Regions from separate parts of the Homo sapiens genome. Here region 1 is linked to region 2. The links come from fine-mapping of genetic effects on gene expression. Tissue or cell type: skeletal muscle. Region 2 holds a variant in brackets; the other region holds the start of a gene. All regions are shown on one strand. Distances are from middle to middle.

Region 1 (8,179 bases), 46 kb after region 2:
TCAGGAGTTCAAGACCAGCCTGGCCATGATGGAAACCCTGACTCTACTAAAAATACAAAAATTAGCCAGGCGTGGTGGTGGGCGCCTGTAATCCCAGCTGCTCGGGAGGCTGAGGCAGGAGAATTGCTTGAACCTGTGAGGCGGAGGTTGCAGCGAGCCGAGATCGCGCCACTGCACTCTAGCCTGGGCAACAGAGCAAGACTCCATCTCAAAAAATATATATATATTATTCTATCCCATGAATCACACTCTCTCCCTAAAACATACTACACTACAACAAGGTTTCTCTTTTTTTTTTTTTTTTTTGAGATAGGGTTTTGTTCCATCACCCAGGCTGGAGTACAGTGGCACAATCTCAGCTCATTGTAACCTCTGCCTCCTGGGTTCAAGCGAGTCTCCCACCTCAGCCTCCCAAGTAGCCAGGATTACAGGTGAACGCCACCATGCCCAGCTAAATTTTGTATTTTTAGTAGAGATGAGGTTTCACCATGTTGGCCGAGAGTCTGGTCTTGAACTCCTGACCTCAGGTGATCTGCCCGCCGTGGCCTCCCAAAGTGCTGGGATTACAGGTGTGGGCCACCATGCCTGGCCAGGTTTCTGAGTTTCAGCACTATTGACATTACTTTGCTGTGGGAGCCTGTCCTGTACATTGTAAGGTGTTTAGCAGCATTCTTGATCTCCACCCACTAGATGCCAGAAGCAACACCCCACCACCACCCCCGATTCTGACAATCAAAAATGTCTTCACCGATGGCCAAATGTCCCCTAGGGAAGTAATCTCCCTATTGTACTAGAATATGCAAATCGGGTATAGAGAGTCTGGTCACCATACCACCTAATTTCCCACCATCCCATTCTCCCTCCATACAGCCACCCTGGCCACCTCTTGCTCACCATTCAGTTGTCTTGGAGGGAACAAGTGATAGGTGCTGTAGATATCATTGGAGAACTGCAACTGGAGCTCAGGGCTGCCCGTCAGGAGCTGAGCCACCTGTTCCACCTGAAATGGCGTCTTCTCCAGGATCACAACGGCATCCTCTCCATCCCCATCCCCAGAGGCCTCATTCACCTGTGGGCAGAGGCATCATCAGTGGGCTCAAGGGCAGAACCACGATGAGACTCTGGAGAGCAAGACAGAAGCTCCCAGGGCCTTTGAATTCCCAATACTTGGGATTTCCTTCCCTGAAGTCTTCCCTCTGGGGAAGTCTAGCCAATGGCACTCACATTTCACATTTCTTTTCTCAGAGAAGGCATCTTTTTTTTTTTGAGATGGAGTGTTGCTCTGTTGCCCGGATTGGAGTGCAATGGCGCGATCTTGGCTCACTGCAACCTCCACCTCCTGGGCTCAAACAATTCTCCCGCCACAGCCTCCTGAGTAGCTGGGATTACAGGCGCATGCCACCACATCTGGCTAATTTTTGTATTTTTAGTAGAGATGGGGTTTCACCATGTTGGCCAGGCTGGTCTTGAACTCCCGATCTCAAATGATATGCCTGCCTCAGCCTCCCAAAGTGCTGGGATTACAGGTGTGAGCCACCATGCCCAGCCAGAGAAGGCATCTCCACCCAAATCCTTGTGGCAGTTCTCACACCTTTCTTCCCCAGAATACAAGGCTTCTCAGTTGTCTTCCATTTTAGGCTTACAAGACCTCTGTCAAGTTCTCCCCATTTCAGAAGATGAAAAACAGACCTTGAGTGACTTGCCCAAGGTCACATGAACAGTCAGCATTGAAACAGAAACCAGAACCTAGGTCTCCCAAGTGACTCCTAGCTCGAAGGCTCTCATGACTAACACCTTCAACAGGTGCTGCACACTGAAGACAGCTGGGCTGAGAGAACCAGACAGAATCGCATACAAAAAAACAGAAAACAAGAAACAAAAACAAACAAACAAACAAACAAAAAACAACAAAAAACAAGGCCCAGCGCAGTCGCTCATGCCTATAATCCCAGCACTTTGGGAGGCAGAGGTGGGTGGATCACCTGAGGTCAGGAGTTCAAGACCAGCCTGGCCAACATGGTGAAACCCTGTCTCTACTAAAAATACGAAAATTAGCTGGGCATGGTGGCAGATGCCTGTAATCCCAGCTACTTGGGAGGCTGAGGCAGGAGAATCACTTGAATCCAGAAAGTGGAGGTTGCAGTGAGCCAAGATAGTGCCATTGCACTCCAGCCTGGACAAGAAGAGTGAAACTCCATCTCAAAAAAAAAAAAAAAAAAAAAAAAGGCGGGTGCGGTGGCTCACGCCTGTAATCCCAGCACTTTGGGAGGCAGAGGCAGGCGGATCACCTGAGGTCAGGAGTTCGAGACCAGCCTGGCCAACATGGTGAAACCCCCATCTCTACTAAAAATACAAAAATTAGCTGGGCATGGTGGCGGGGGCCTGTAATCCCAGCTATTGGGCAGGCTGAGGCAGGTAGAATAGCTTGAACTCGGGAGGCAGAGGTTGCAGTGAGCCGAGATCACATCACTGCACTCTAGCCTGGGTGACAGAGAGGAGAGACTCCGTCTCAAAAATAAATAAATAAATAAATAAAAATTTAAAAACCAGATACACACAGAGGCATGGAAGCCTAGGCCAAGGTTCCCTGATCCTCCCAAAGGTGAGAGTTCCTGCTAGTAGTTCTAGGGAACCCCCTTATCTGCCCTGGCTAGGCCTCCTCACTAGTTTCTGGGGAACCCCCATATCTGCTCTGGCTAGGCCTCCTCACTAGTTCCTGGAATGGTCTCCATCTCTCCTCAGCCCCTGCCAGATTGCTGAGCACGTTGGTATTGGAGCAAGCTGTGTGTATCTGTCTCGCCAGAAATATTCCGTAGTCCTGAAGATCAGGGATGGTAACTTTCGTCTCCACATCCCCAGTACCTAGTTTAGTGTCTGGCATGCATGAAAGTGCGTGCGTAGAACTGAATTAACAATTATAATATATTGTTCTCCTGTTACGGCTGAAGTCGCGTAAGGCAGAGATCACATCTCCTACAGTCTCATGTCGTTTCCACGGACAGGGATGAGCGAGACATCTAACATTGACTGGGTTCCTAGTCCCTGTATACATAAATGGATGATGAATGGCTTGGGGAATGTAACATGTGATCTTTAATCTGCAATGCACTCTCCCAGTAGATATTTCTAGTGGAGACATTAGAAAAATTAGAGCTAGATGTGTTCATTGCCTTAATTTCAAAGGCAATCTTGCCGCCTTTCACCGCCCCTCTATGCATTCTAGTGGCGCACTCCCGCCTCCCCGGAGTGATAATGATTGGTATTTTCCAGCCGAGATCCGAAAAAAAAAAATCTGCCTCCGAGGCGATGATTGGTTCACTGCTTCCCGCATCCCACCTCAGGGTTGCCTCCTGGTACCTTCCCGTGTAGGAAAATGATTTTGTCCCGCGCAGACTCCCTCAGCACCTTCTGCAGTCTGAAGCCGGAGAACGGTAAGCGGACAGGAGCACAGGTACCATTTCCAACTCCTGCCTCCTTTTCCTCTGTGCTGGCGGCGTGGGCCTCCTCCACGTCCAATTCGCGCTTCCTCTTGCCTAGTTGAGGAGCTGCGTCCGCCATGCTGCCGCGGAGGCGGTGTGCGCCTGCGCCCCCTGCGCTGGCCCCGCCCCTAGCCCGAGTCCAGCGGCCTGGCTGGGCTGCTAACTCCCGGCCTACCCTGCTCTGGCACCCGCTCCTGCGGGATGCGTGCCGCGCATGGCGGAGCCCGCTGACCTGTCCCAGGGCGCGCCTTTCAACCGAGTTACTGCCTTTGGCCCCGTTGTGGTGCCGGCCGGCCCTCAGGGAAGGGAAAAGAAGGCTGAGAGTCCCGAAAGCGGCGGGCTAGAGGTGGCTGCGCAGTGAAGAGGGACCCCCAGGCCCACGCCCCGGGGTGGGAGCCGAAGACGCCCTTGGGCCACGGTAGTGTTGGAGCCCTTGTTTGAATACTGACATTTTAATCATAGTTACACCGACGTTGACCAATTATCGGGGAAGCAACGTTTCTGACGCAAATCCGTGAGCCCATTTGATTCCTTGGTCGATTTTTTATACCGAGTATTTAAGCCATTTCCATTTTTCTCCCATTTTAATTACTTTGCAGAAATTTTCATCGTGGTCAGTTTTTTACTTTGTAGACTCAGTACTTTTCTGCTGACAAAAAAGGTAAACGAATATGGCCAGAAGAACCATCTCCACCACCCACTTATTTCCGGGCTAGAGGCATCCCCCTCCTCTCTATTTTGTTTACCTGTATTTCTGCCCTGCTACCCAGGGATATGATTTGCAGTATGATTCGTCTCCCAGGGTTTCGTTTCTCTTTTTTTTTTTTTTTTTTTTTTTTTTTGCCATATAAAATTATTACTTGTAACTTCTGCTGTTGAGGGTTTCTTTGGTGACCATTGTTTCTGGTTAGCCCGTTTTTCACTGGTGTTATTTAACAGATCTAAATTTTGTGAAGAGTTGGTACTTACGGACAGGCGCGGTGGCTCACGCCTGTAATTCCAGCACTTCGAGAGGTCGAGGTGGACGGATCACGAGGTTAAGATACCGAGACCATCCTGGCCAACATGGTGAAACCCCGTCTCTACTAAAAATACAAAAATTACCCGGGCGTGGTGGCCCGCGCCTGTAGTCCCAGCTACTCGGGAGGCTGAGGCAGGAAAATCGCTTGAACGCGGGCGGAGTATTGTAGTGAGCCGAGATCGCACCACTGCACTCCACCCTGGCGACAGAGCGAGACTACGTCTCAAAGAAAAAAAAAAAGAGTTGGTACTTACATCGCTTCAGTCAGCCACACATTTATTTTGCCAGTGATTTGAGTTTAGGTTTTCAGACAGATCTCATGGGTGTGGGACAGTTTTTGCCATTCTCAACGTTAGCAACAAGATGCAATTTACAGTCAGTTTTTGGTCAATAACAAAGTGTACCATGTGTTAGTTTGATTTTTGGATTACTTCTACCAGAAATATAGATTAGGAGTTGGATAAAAGACTACTTTAGGCCAGGCGCGGTGGCTCATGCCTGTAATCCCAGCACTTTGGGAGGCCGAGGTGGGCGGATCACGAGGTCAGGAGATCGAGACCATCCTGGCTAACGTGGTGAAACTCCGTCTCTACTAAAGATACAAAAAAATTAGCCAGGCGTGGTGGCGGGCGCCTGTAGTCCCAGCTACTTGGGAGGCTGAGGCAGGAGAATGGCGTGAACCCGGGAGGCGGAGCTTGCAGTTAGCTGAGATCGCGCCACTGCACTCCAGCCTGGGTGACAGAGCGAGACTCCATCTCAAAAAAAAAAAAAAAAAAAAAGGACTACTTTGTGTGTGTGTGTGTGTGTGTGTGTGATGCAGAAAGCATTATTAGGAGAGACTTAGGATCTGTCCCCCAGGCTGGAGTGCAATGGCGCGATCTCGGCTCACTGCAACCTCTGCCTCCAGGTTCAAGCGATTCTCCTGCCTCAACTTCCTGAGTAGCTGGTATTACAGGCGGCTGCTACCACTCCCGGCTAATTTTTTGTATTTTTAGTAGAGTCAGGGTTTCACCATGTTGGCCAGGCTGGTCTCGAACTCCTGACCTCGTGATCCGCCCGCCTGGGCCTCCCAAAGAGCTGGCATTACAGGCGTGAGCCACCGCACCCTGCCAAAGTAGCTATGTTTTAACAAAAAGAGCCCATAATTGAGAGCCATGAAGTCGGGCCCCAACACTGACTAGCTGTGCAACTTTGGAAAAGTCTCTTAACCTTTCCAGGTCTCCATTTTCCATGTGCCAGCGGCTATTAGTTCTAAGCAAGACAACGAGGCCTCTTCTTTCATAAAATGTATATTCAAATGGGGTACATGAGGTAAACAAGATAATGATTAAGAACTGTTTTTTGTTTTTTGTTTTTTGTTTTTTTTTGAGACGGAGTCTCCCTCTGTCGCCCAGGCTGGAGTGCAGTGGTGCGATCTCGGCTCACTGCAAGCTCCACCTCCCAGGTTCACGCCATTCTCCTGCCTCAGCCTCCCAAGTAGCTGGGACTACAGGGGCCTACCACCACGCCTGGCTAATTTTTTGTATTTTTAGTAGAGACGGGGTTTCACCGTGTTAGCCAGGATGGTCTCAATTTCCTGACCTCGTGATCTGCCCGCCTCAGCCTCCCAAAGTGCTGGGATTACAGGCGTGAGCCACCGTGCCCGGCCAAGTACTGTTAATAGGACAAAACTGGACAGTGTGAAAGAGCCTGGGGATAGGAGCCCCCCCCCCCCGCCCTTTTTTTTCTTTCTTTGAGACAGAGTCTCACTCTGTCACCCAGGCTGGAGTACAGTGGTGCAATCTTGGCTCACTGCAACCTTCACCTCCCAGGTTCAAGCGACTCTTCTGCCTCAGCCTTCTAAGTAGCTGGGATTACAGGCGTACACTAGCACACCTGGCCAATTTTTGTATTTTTAGTAGAGATGGGGTTTTGCCATGTTGGCCAGGCTGGTCTCAAACTCCTGACCTCAGGTGACCTGCCCATCTCCCAAAGTGTTGGGATTACAGGCATGAGCCACCATGCTCGGCCAAGCTCTTTAGATAAGATGATCATGGACAGCCTCTCAAAAGGTGACATTTGAGCTGAGACTTGAATGATGAGAAGGAACCAGCCATATCAGCCATATGAAGAGCCCAGGCACAGTAAATATTAGCTGTCAAAGGCCCTAGAGCAGTAATGTGCTTGACATTTTTAAAAAATAGGAATGACCGTGGGGCATGGTGGCTTACACCTGTAATCCCAGCACTTTGGGAGGCTGAGGTGGGCGGATCACTTCAGATCAGGAGCTCGAGACCAGCCTGGCCAACATGGTGAAACATAGTCTGTACTAAAAATACAAAAATTAGCTGGGTGTGGTGGTGTGCGCCTGTAATCCCAGCTACCTGGGAGGCTGAGGCAGGAGAATCACTTGAACTCAGGAGGTGCAGGTTGCAGTGAGCCAAGGTCGCGCCACTGCACTTCAACCTGGGTGACAGAGCAAGACTCTGTCTCAAAAGGAATGACCTGTGTAGCTAAAATATAATGAGCAAAATAGAAACATTTGAAATGAAATAGTAGAGAAATGTATTCATTAGCGGCAAAATTAATCAATATGGGTATAATTTTGATTAAAATATAAAACCAGAATTCTACTCTTCAAAAAGGCCTGGCTCATGCCCCACGTGGTGGCTCATACCTGTAGTCCCAGCTACTTAGGAGGCTGAGGTGGGAGGACCACTTGAGCCCAGAAGTTTGAGGCTGCAGTGAGCTATAATCACACCACTGCCCTCCAGCCTGGGCAAGAGAGCGAGGCTTTGTCTCTTAAAAAAAAAGAATGCCAAGGAAAGGATGAGCTCATAGGAAGCCTCAGCTACCAGAGGTTCTATTAAATACCAGACCTCAGTGTGAAAGGAATCTTTATGGTAGTAGTTAAAATTCATTTCCTCAGTTACACTAGCCACTTTGCAAGTGCTTGATATCCACTTGTGGCTATCGTATGAGCACAGATGGAGAACATTTTCATTATCAAAGGAAGTTCTACTAGACAATGCTGTATTAGCTTACTCATTTATTATAAAGCCCTGTTCAATTGTTTTTCAGAAATCTTAAAATTTCTCCCACGCAAGGTGCGGTGGCTCACGCCTGTAATCCCAGCACTTTGGGAGGCCAAGGCGGGTGGATCACTTGAGGTCAGGAGTTTGAGACTAGCCTGGCTAACATGGCGAAACCCCATCTCTATTAAAAATACAAAAATTAGCTGAGTGTGGCAGCAGGCACCTATAATTCCAGCTACTCGGGAGGCTGAGGCAGGAGAATGGCTTGAACCTGGAGGCGGAGGTTGTAATGAGCCAAGATTGCACCACTGTGCTCCAGCCTGAGTGACAGAGCGAGACTCTGTCTCAAAAAAAAAAAAAAAAAAAAACCTCCCAAATCTTTTCTTTTTTAGTCTAAAGAAGGATTGGATACTTCCCAGTTCCATTTCAGGGATTATAACAGACTAAACTGAAAACAAGTCAGCTACAAAATACCCGAACATTCTGGATGTAAAATTTAAAACATTCTTTTAGTTACGTTGCTGAGCTCTCAAAAAAGTAAAATTTGCAGGAACCAAAAATGATGTGGGAGTTTGAATCTATAGAGTGGTAAGGGGATTTTTAAGGTGGAAGCTATTTTAAGGGCCATTGCTGATCTCTAGACGTCTAGGACCCGATTCAAGGGA
Region 2 (8,179 bases):
TAAGCACAGTTTGCAGTTCTTGCCGTGAATCACGTAAATGTCACTCTACCAGAAAATGGAACTTAAGAACCAGCATTTGTTCCTGGAGACCTGAGTTCCAACTCTTGTCTCTGCCACTAAATAGCTTTAGTTTTCTTACTGGGGTGGGGGGAGGGGAAAGGAAATAACTGCTTATTCAAAGGGCTATTGTTGGCATTAAATCAGGCAATGGATGCGAATTTGGTCTGAAAGCATAACCTGCTATATATAAGTGTGTGCTGTTACTATGCAGGTGGCGTGCCTTTTCTAACCTATAAGCTGTATTCAGGCCTCTCCCCCAGCTTATCCCAAGCCTGGTTACTAGGTGCCCAGAAGCTAACCGTAATTCTGCTCCCCTCAGGTTAGGCCACAATGTGCTTACTCATGATGATCTTTTCCCTCCAGTTTCTTAACAGCATGGCCACAAGCTTAGCTCACTGCCTAGAAGCCATGTCATCTTTGGGGCAGGAGGGAAGCAATTCTGGTGCCTTTCTCCTCTTCTCTTCTCTCTTTTTCTTTCTTTCTTTTCTTCCTTCCTTCTTTCCTTCCTTCCTTTCTCTCTCTTCTTGTCTTTCCATCTTTCCTTCTCCTCTTCTTTCTTTTTCTTTCTTTCCTTTCTTCCTTCCTTCTTTCCTTCCTTCCTTTCTCTCTCTTTTTCTTGTCTTTCCATCTTTCTTTCTCCTCTTCTTTCTTTTTCTTTCCTTTCTTCCTTCCTTCTTTCCTTCCTTCCTTTCTCTCTCTTTTCTTGTCTTTCCATCTTTCCTTCTCCTCTTCTCTTTTTCTTTCTTTTTCTTCCTTCTTTCCTTCCTTGCTTTCTCTCTCTCTCTTCTTGTCTTTCCATCTTTCCTTCTCTTCTCTTTTTCTTTCTTTCCTTTCTTCCTTCCTTCTTTCCTTCGTTCCTTTCTCTCTCTCTTTTCTTGTCTTTCCATCTTTCCTTCTCCTCTTCTCTTTTCTTTCCTTTCTTCCTTCTTTCCTTCCTTCCTTTCTCTCTCTTTTCTTGTCTTTCCATCTTTCCTTCTCCTCTTCTTTCTTTTTCTTTCTTTTTTTTTCTTCCTTCCTTCTTTCCTTCCTTCCTCTCTCTCTCTCTTTTCTTGTCTTTCCATCTTTCCTTCTCCTCTTCTCTCCTCTCTCCTCTCCATGTGCTTTTTTGGCCCCAGGCCCCCCTTTGGTGCAACTACAACACATGATGAGCGGCTCAGCAAGAGGCAGTAGGATGGGATAAGCAGGGCTTTGGCCCATGGGGACTGTTTCTTTTGGATGTTAACTGTGCCAAAGTGGGACCAAGGCAACCAGAGGAACAACAGGTCTTAGTCCCCTTCCAAGCCATCAGTGCTGCCTCCATTCCCATTTCCTTTGCCTCCCAAACTCTCCTGTGTTTCTGCTTGGTGGAAGTGGCAGGACACCTCTGTGCTGGGGCAACCAGAGGGGCCTCAGGAGCAGAGGGAGGAGCAGGTGCATCTAGATCTGGGAAGCCCTGGCCCTGCGGCCCCTCTCTGGCAGGAGTGGGTGTGAGCAGCAGCGTGGAACAGCTCCTGTATCATGTGCCACGTTAGCATCCTGCCCACCAAGAGGAGGAAACAGCAAGATGTGTTTGAGGAAGAAATATACCCCATCCAGCATCTCAGATGATTTTAAAAATAGCAACTCCAGGATGGTATTTCAGCTCCTATTTTTATCAGATTTATATGGCTGGACCATGGAGCTGAGCTGTTCCCAGGGTTCTCAGTAGCAAGGGACATCACTCTTGTAGTGTTAGCTGAAATGCATTCCAGGAACCTGTAGGCTGAAAGAGATCCTGAGAAGTCATTGCACACAGCCCCTGCCTCTGTTTAGGACCACAGTCAGTTAACCACCAAAAGTTTACGGCTTTTTTCCTTGAAACCTCTTGGTTGGCCAGGAGTGTTGGCTCATGCCCGTAATCTCAGCACTTTGGGAGGCCGAGGTGGGTGGATCACCAGAAGTCGGAATTTCGAGACCAGCCTGGCCAACATGGTGAAACCCCATCTCTACTAAAAACACAAAAATTAACTGGGCGTGGTAGTGGGTGCCTGTAATCCCAGCTACTCAGGAGGCTGAGGCAGGAGAATCACTTGAACCCGGGAGGCGGAGGTTGCAGTGAGCCGAGATTGAGCCACTGCACTCCAGCCTGGCAACAGAGTGAGACTGTCTCAAAAAGTAAATAAATAGAAACTCTTGGTTCCATGCGTAGTCTAGCATTTTGTAGCACTTCTAATCACGAAGTTATTTTTAATATTTGTTTGGTCTGTTATACAAAATGTAGACTGGATGGCTTATAAACTACAGAAATCTCTCACAGTTCTGTAGGCTAGAAAGTCTAAGATGAAGATGCCAGCAGCCTGCTTCCTGGTTCATACAAGGTCATCTTCTCACTGTAACCTCACAGTGAGAGGAAGGGCCTAGGGGTGACTCTGGGATCTCTTTTATGAGGCACTAATCCCATTAATGGGGGCCCCCCACCCTCATGGCCTAATCACCTCCCAAAGGCCCCACGATTGCCTTGGGTGTTAGGATTTCCACATATGAATTTTAGGGGAACACAGACGTTCAGGCCATAGCAAATATCTTGCCCAAATATCTCTAGTTCCATCCTTTTGGTCACTCTCAGACCAGAACATTTACTGAGTGATTACTATGTCCCACAAAATTCTTATTTAACCCTCAGAAAAACCGTCTGGGGGAAGCATTGTTATCACTCCTATTTCATGAGCAGTTATGTAACTTGCCCCAGATAAGACTTGGTTATGGCACAGATTCTGTGTTGGAGCCTTCAGACCACTCTACTTCCCAAGCAGGGGAGGAACAGAACATTAAAGATTTTCTTGGCCTTGGCTTTCATTTCTTCATCGTGGTTCTGAAAGGAAAATTGGCTACAGTCTTAAATGTATGTGTGGGCCCACGCTAGAAGCTCAGCTCTCAGTGCCAGCCACACTGAGCCCTGGTCTCCCTAACTTCCGGGCCTTTACTCTGCTTGTCATTGGGCTGATAACCAAGATCCAGCCTAGAGCACAAGAAGACAAACGCTGCGTGATCTCGTGTGTAGAACCTAACAAAGTGGAACTCACAGAAGCAGAGAGTAGAATGGTGGTTGCCTGTTGGAATGGGGAGATGGTCAGAGAATGCAAACTTTCAGTTGGATGGGAGGAAGAAGTTCCAGAGATCTATTGTGCCACATGGTGACAATAGTTAATAACAATGTACTGGGCGGGGGGTGGTGGCCTACGCCTGTAATCCCAGCACTTTGGGAAGCTGAGGCAGACAGATCACTTGAGGTCAGGAGTTCTAGACCAGCTTGTCCAACATGGTGAAACCCCGTCTCTACTATAAAACTACAAAATTAGCCAGGTGTGGTGGTGTGCGCCTGTAATCTCAGCTACTTGGGAGGCTGAATCGCTTGAACCCAGGAGGTGGAGGTTGCAGTGAGTCGAGACTGCGCCACTGCCCTCCAGCCTGGGTGACACAGTGAGACTCTGTTTCAAAAAAACAAAAAAAGCAATGTACTGTATACTTGAAAATTGCTCACAGAGATTTTAAATGTTCTCACCATTACAAAATGATAAATATGTGACATAATGCATATGTTAATTAGCCCGATTTAGTGATTCCACAGTGTATACATATAACAAAACATGTTGTACACCATAAATGTATACTATTTTTATTTGCCAATTAAATATATTTTTTTAAAGTTTTAGCCTGCAGGTTTAGCTTTTTGGGGCTGAAGCCCCATAGCCCCCTCCACTTCAACACACTCATCAGCATTGTAATTACTTTGTAATTAATGCCTGTGTTCCTACTAAATTGTAAGCTCCACATGAGCTCTGCCTCCAGGTGCTTGCAAAAAAACCAAAAGGGGGTGGGGGTAGATGCTCAAAGCCTGTTTATTAAATTGTATTGAAATTGAAACGCTTGAAACAGATTTCATTCCTGCTTATTTTCTAACAGTGGTTAAAACTTGGTAACTTCAAGTTGACATG[G/C]ATTTCAGAATTCAATGTAATTTCAATAATATTATAATAGAACAAACTTAGGGTTGCCAACATTTATTTTGCTAAGCAAGGCTATTTTAAAAACAACTATCAATAATTATCTTATTTTAAAAAATACATTTTAACCTTATATATACATGTTTGGAATAAAAACAGTCCTTCCTGAGAAGGAAGAGTTGGCAGACCTACATCAATAAAATAAATATATTCAAATGCTTTGGATATGGAAGTATTACAAGAGAAACATTTTCAAGTATTACTTCGTATGTAGTTGTTTCTTATTTCTCAGTTCGGGGATCTGTATTCAACAGGGACATGGAATATGGAGCCTGAGATGGTATTTTTCTGTTTCATGTTGGTAAATAGAGACCACTCAGCAATTTTGCTCTATTAGGAAAGTTTGAGACAAATGGAGAGAAGCCAAGGAACAATAGCAGTCATGCCTCCAACTGCTTCTTTCCTTCTCCAACCAAGCCAGAAAGAATGTAGGCCAAGTGTTGAGGGCTAAAAGCCAGTCGTGGAGCCGTCCAGGATTTATCTAGGAAGGGTGACATCTGCCACTGCTCCAGCAGAGCGGGGGCATGGCATGCTTCTGAGGGCACACAGTTCAACACATGAGGCACTCTGCAGCACACAGGACCAAGGTGTCATGCTGCCAGAGGGGCTGGCATTTGCCATTTTGTCAAGGCAGGGCTGCAGCTTGTGGCTTGCTCAGGACAGAAGGATGTTGGGCTCTTACGAGATAGCAGGAAGAAAGCATGAGGTAGAGGGGCTGGTCCTTACTCTCCATCCCCTGCGTGAGATCCAGGAGGCCTCATTCAGAGCCTAGCTCTGGTCCTCCATTCGCCACATGTTTTTTGAGCACTTATAGGTGAGTCACCACCCTAGGTTCTGGGGAAATGGTGAACAAAGGGCCAGAAGTCTCTGCTTCCTGGAGCTGACGTTCACTCCATAATGCTGGACAAGACATCCTGAGCCCATTTCTTCGTAAAAAGGAAGGAGAATGTGGGTCATGAAATGATCTGCTATATGAATGTAGTGTTATAATGTTGCTTTGTCTCAAAGGTTGGTTTGCTGAGCCAGGTAGTGTCTTAGGGGCCAGGGATAGAGAGATAACTAAAACAAAGCTCCTACCCTCAAGACCCTCTCAGTCTAGTGAGGAAAGCGGAGAAACTCACAAATAGGAATAAAAGGAGGCACTATATTGCAAAGCTATCATCTTGAGTTACCTGGGAGTCTGATATGAAGGTCACCCTAATAAAGACAGACTATGCTTTTGGAGTCTCAACAGGACTTGGCAGAGCAGCCAACCCTGGTGCACTCTAGACCTTGAGGGTGATAAGCCCAAAGAGGGTTGGATTGAGGGAGGGAGCTGCATGGGGGCCGTGGCCGGCAGGGTCCCTGGAGATTACAGCAGCAGAGCACTGGCTGGCTCTGAAGGGGAACCCTTGCCAGGCCTCTAGCAGAGGCTTGTCTTTCCATGTACAAGAAAAGTTAAGTGGTGAGGCCTGGAGAGGGGCCCCCTTCTGTACTGTGGTGAAGATAAACGAGGCTGGGAGAGGAGTGAGGGGACGCTATCCCAGAGAGGCTCCTCCCCACAGAGTGGGCAGAAGGAAGACAGAACTGGCCAGCCCCTCGGGGGAGTCGAGAAACCTTCCAGAGTGTGGGTCCCTGTCTCCATGCCCTGCCTCTCCAGACCTGAGTGCCTGCCCTCTGCTGTGACTGCCAGCCTCGTCTGTCCTGTTGGGTGAACTCTGTCCCATCTCTCTTGCCCCTCAAACATTTATTTATCCGGTGTCAAATTCCTACCCACCTTCCTCCAGGGGCCAGGCGCTACGAGATGAGGGGAAGGAACGGCAAGGTCAGCGGGAGCCCGTGGAGTCAGACCCTCCAGCAGCACCACTGGGGGCTGGGCAGGAGGGCATGGGCTGAGGCCACAGGGAAGGGCTGCTCCACAGGGAGGCCTCCCTCTGCTCCGTGGCAGTTGTGGTGCTGGAGATGGAGACCGTGTTTGCTTGTTGGGACCACATCTGCTTTCAGAGGGGAAGCGGGTCACTTCTTTCCCCTGGACCTGGAATGGGCACAACTGAGACGCAGGGAGCATTCCTGCAAGCTGGACACTGCTCTGGGAGAAGACCTCCATCCAACCTCCTGCCAAGACCCCAGCAGCTGCCAGTGTCACTGCCCACAAAAGTATTTGCTTAGCCCAAGAAGGAGTCAGTCAGATGTGTGGTGGCCATGAAATGGATCCTGCTGATTCTCTGTCAGACCTCCCTGCATTGGTCACTACCTCAAAGTTCCTTGGCTGCAACTCCATGTTGCCTGAATCTAGGGACTGTTGACGTATTGCAGGGGCTGGGCGCGGTGGCTCACGCCTGGAATCCCAGCACTTTGGGAGGCCGAGATGGGTGGATCACCTGAGGCCAGGAGTTGGAGACCAGCCTGGCCAACATGGTGAAACCCCGTCTCTACTAAAAATACAAAAATTAGCTGGGCATGGGGGCGCACCCCTGTAGTCCCAGCTACTCAGGAGGCTGAGGCAGGAGAATCACTTGAACCCAGGAGGCAGAGGTTGCAGTGAGTCGAGATTGTGCCACTGCACTCCAGCCTGGGTGATGGAGCGAGATTGTCTCAAAAAAAAAAAAAAAAAAAAGAGCTGCAGGGAAGAATGGCTGAGTGGAGGCCAGTGGCTTCATTGTGCCTCATCTGAACTCCCTGAAGGCTGAAGCAGGTCCCTGAGGCTTTCTGACCACACCCTCCACTCCCCGGCTGTTTCTATTTTTTTAATTTTTTTTTCTGAGAGGGAGTCTTGCTCTGTCACCCAGGCCAAAGTGCGGTGGCTCACGGCAACCTCCGCCTCCCGGGTTCAAGGGATTCTCCTGCTTCAGCCTCCCAAGTAGGTGGGATTATAGGAGCCCACCACCACACCTGGCTAATTTTTCTGTTTTTTAGTAGAGATGGGTTTCACCATGTTCGTGATTCTGCTGTTTCTAAGGAGTCTCTCCCAGGACCATGGGGGTCCACAGCAGGCCCTGAGACCCTGAAGCAGGTTGGCTGCACCTGGGCTACCACCTGCAGTAAAGGGGCTAATCTCTGAATGAGGCTTCCTGGTTCTCAGGCAGGGGATGGAGAGTAAGGACCACCCACTGTGCCTCAAGCTTCCCCCCTGCTGTCACTTAGGAGCCTGCCATCCTGCCATCCCTGAGAGCTTCCCAAGCAAGGCACAAAATCCACAGCCCTACTCTGACAAAGTGGCAAACACCAGCCCCTCTGGCAGCATGATGCCTTGGTCCTGTGTGCTGGAGAGAGCCTGTGTGTTTACTTGTGTGCCCGCCCATACAAGCCATGTCCCTGCGCCGCTTGAGCCCTGTTGGCTGCCTAACTGCTCATCAGCCTCTGACGCTTTGAGGTCCCTTCCTGGTCTCAAGATCCTCTGAACATCTGCCTCTGATAGGCCTTGAACCCGAGCCGCCTCCGGGCTTTTGTATTCAACTGCAACCATATCATTTGCCCTTGCTGATTCACTGTTTTGCACTTGATCTTCTGGCTGCTTCATGTGAGTCTGTTTTGTCTTCCTGCCGAGATAAAAACTCAAGGCTGGGGACTCGCTGACCAAATAACAGAGCAAGGCAGGCTTTTCGGCCTTGCATAATCTGATTCTTATTAAAACCCGCCGATTTCCAGGCACCAAGCCCCTATCCTCGTCAACAAGAAGTTTATCAGCAGGGTTGACTGACTCACAGGGAGGTGTGACCTCACTGCTGGAAGGAGGAAGTGCCATCAGAAACCTGTATAGATAATTTCCTGAAAGCTTCCAAGTTTGGTTTTTTGGGGAACTCCTCAAAGGAGAGGTGGATGGCAGGGGAAGGAGGAGGGGTGATGGGGAGGAGCAGAATAAGAAGTTGTACAAACAGGAGAGGCACAGAGTGGGGAGAAGGAAGCCACCACGGACGGTGAGCCCTGGGGCTTGGAGAAGGCCCTCGGCACCCTTCCAGGGCAGCTCCCACCTGTCAGTTGAAACCACCACCTGGAGACTTTCCACCATTCTCAAGGCCTTCCCACAGGTTCTACCCACCCACTGTCCCCCACCATCTGTCTGCCTCCCAGGCCACGCTGTCCACACTGAGTGAGCCCGCTAGTTTATTCAATACTAGGAA

What was found. PIP is the estimated chance that this variant, and not a neighbour inherited with it, causes the effect.
Region 1: DCPS starts here. The variant in region 2 is fine-mapped to the expression of DCPS in skeletal muscle (GTEx, PIP above 0.99). The same link has a PIP of 0.9 or more in anterior cingulate cortex, caudate, cerebellar hemisphere, cerebral cortex and prefrontal cortex.

Annotation. Positions count from the first base shown.
Region 1 is chr11:126,299,460-126,307,638 of GRCh38, reverse strand. DCPS (decapping enzyme, scavenger) reads right to left here and starts at 3,579. Exons shown (of 6, transcript NM_014026.6): 1 at 3,358-3,579; 2 at 895-1,069. The coding sequence starts at 3,558. It overlaps TIRAP-AS1 (TIRAP antisense RNA 1), which reads left to right and starts at 3,317. Exons shown (of 2, transcript NR_187388.1): 1 at 3,317-3,451. RefSeq lists an enhancer at 1,544-1,833 and a silencer at 3,492-3,621.
Region 2 is chr11:126,345,720-126,353,898 of GRCh38, reverse strand. DCPS (decapping enzyme, scavenger) reads right to left here. Exons shown (of 6, transcript NM_014026.6): 6 at 3,894-8,179. All of the region lies in intron 1 of GSEC (G-quadruplex forming sequence containing lncRNA), which reads left to right. Among named protein-coding and RNA genes, the nearest start is that of GSEC, 5.8 kb to the left of the region's middle. The variant G/C (reference allele first, on the strand shown) is at 4,014.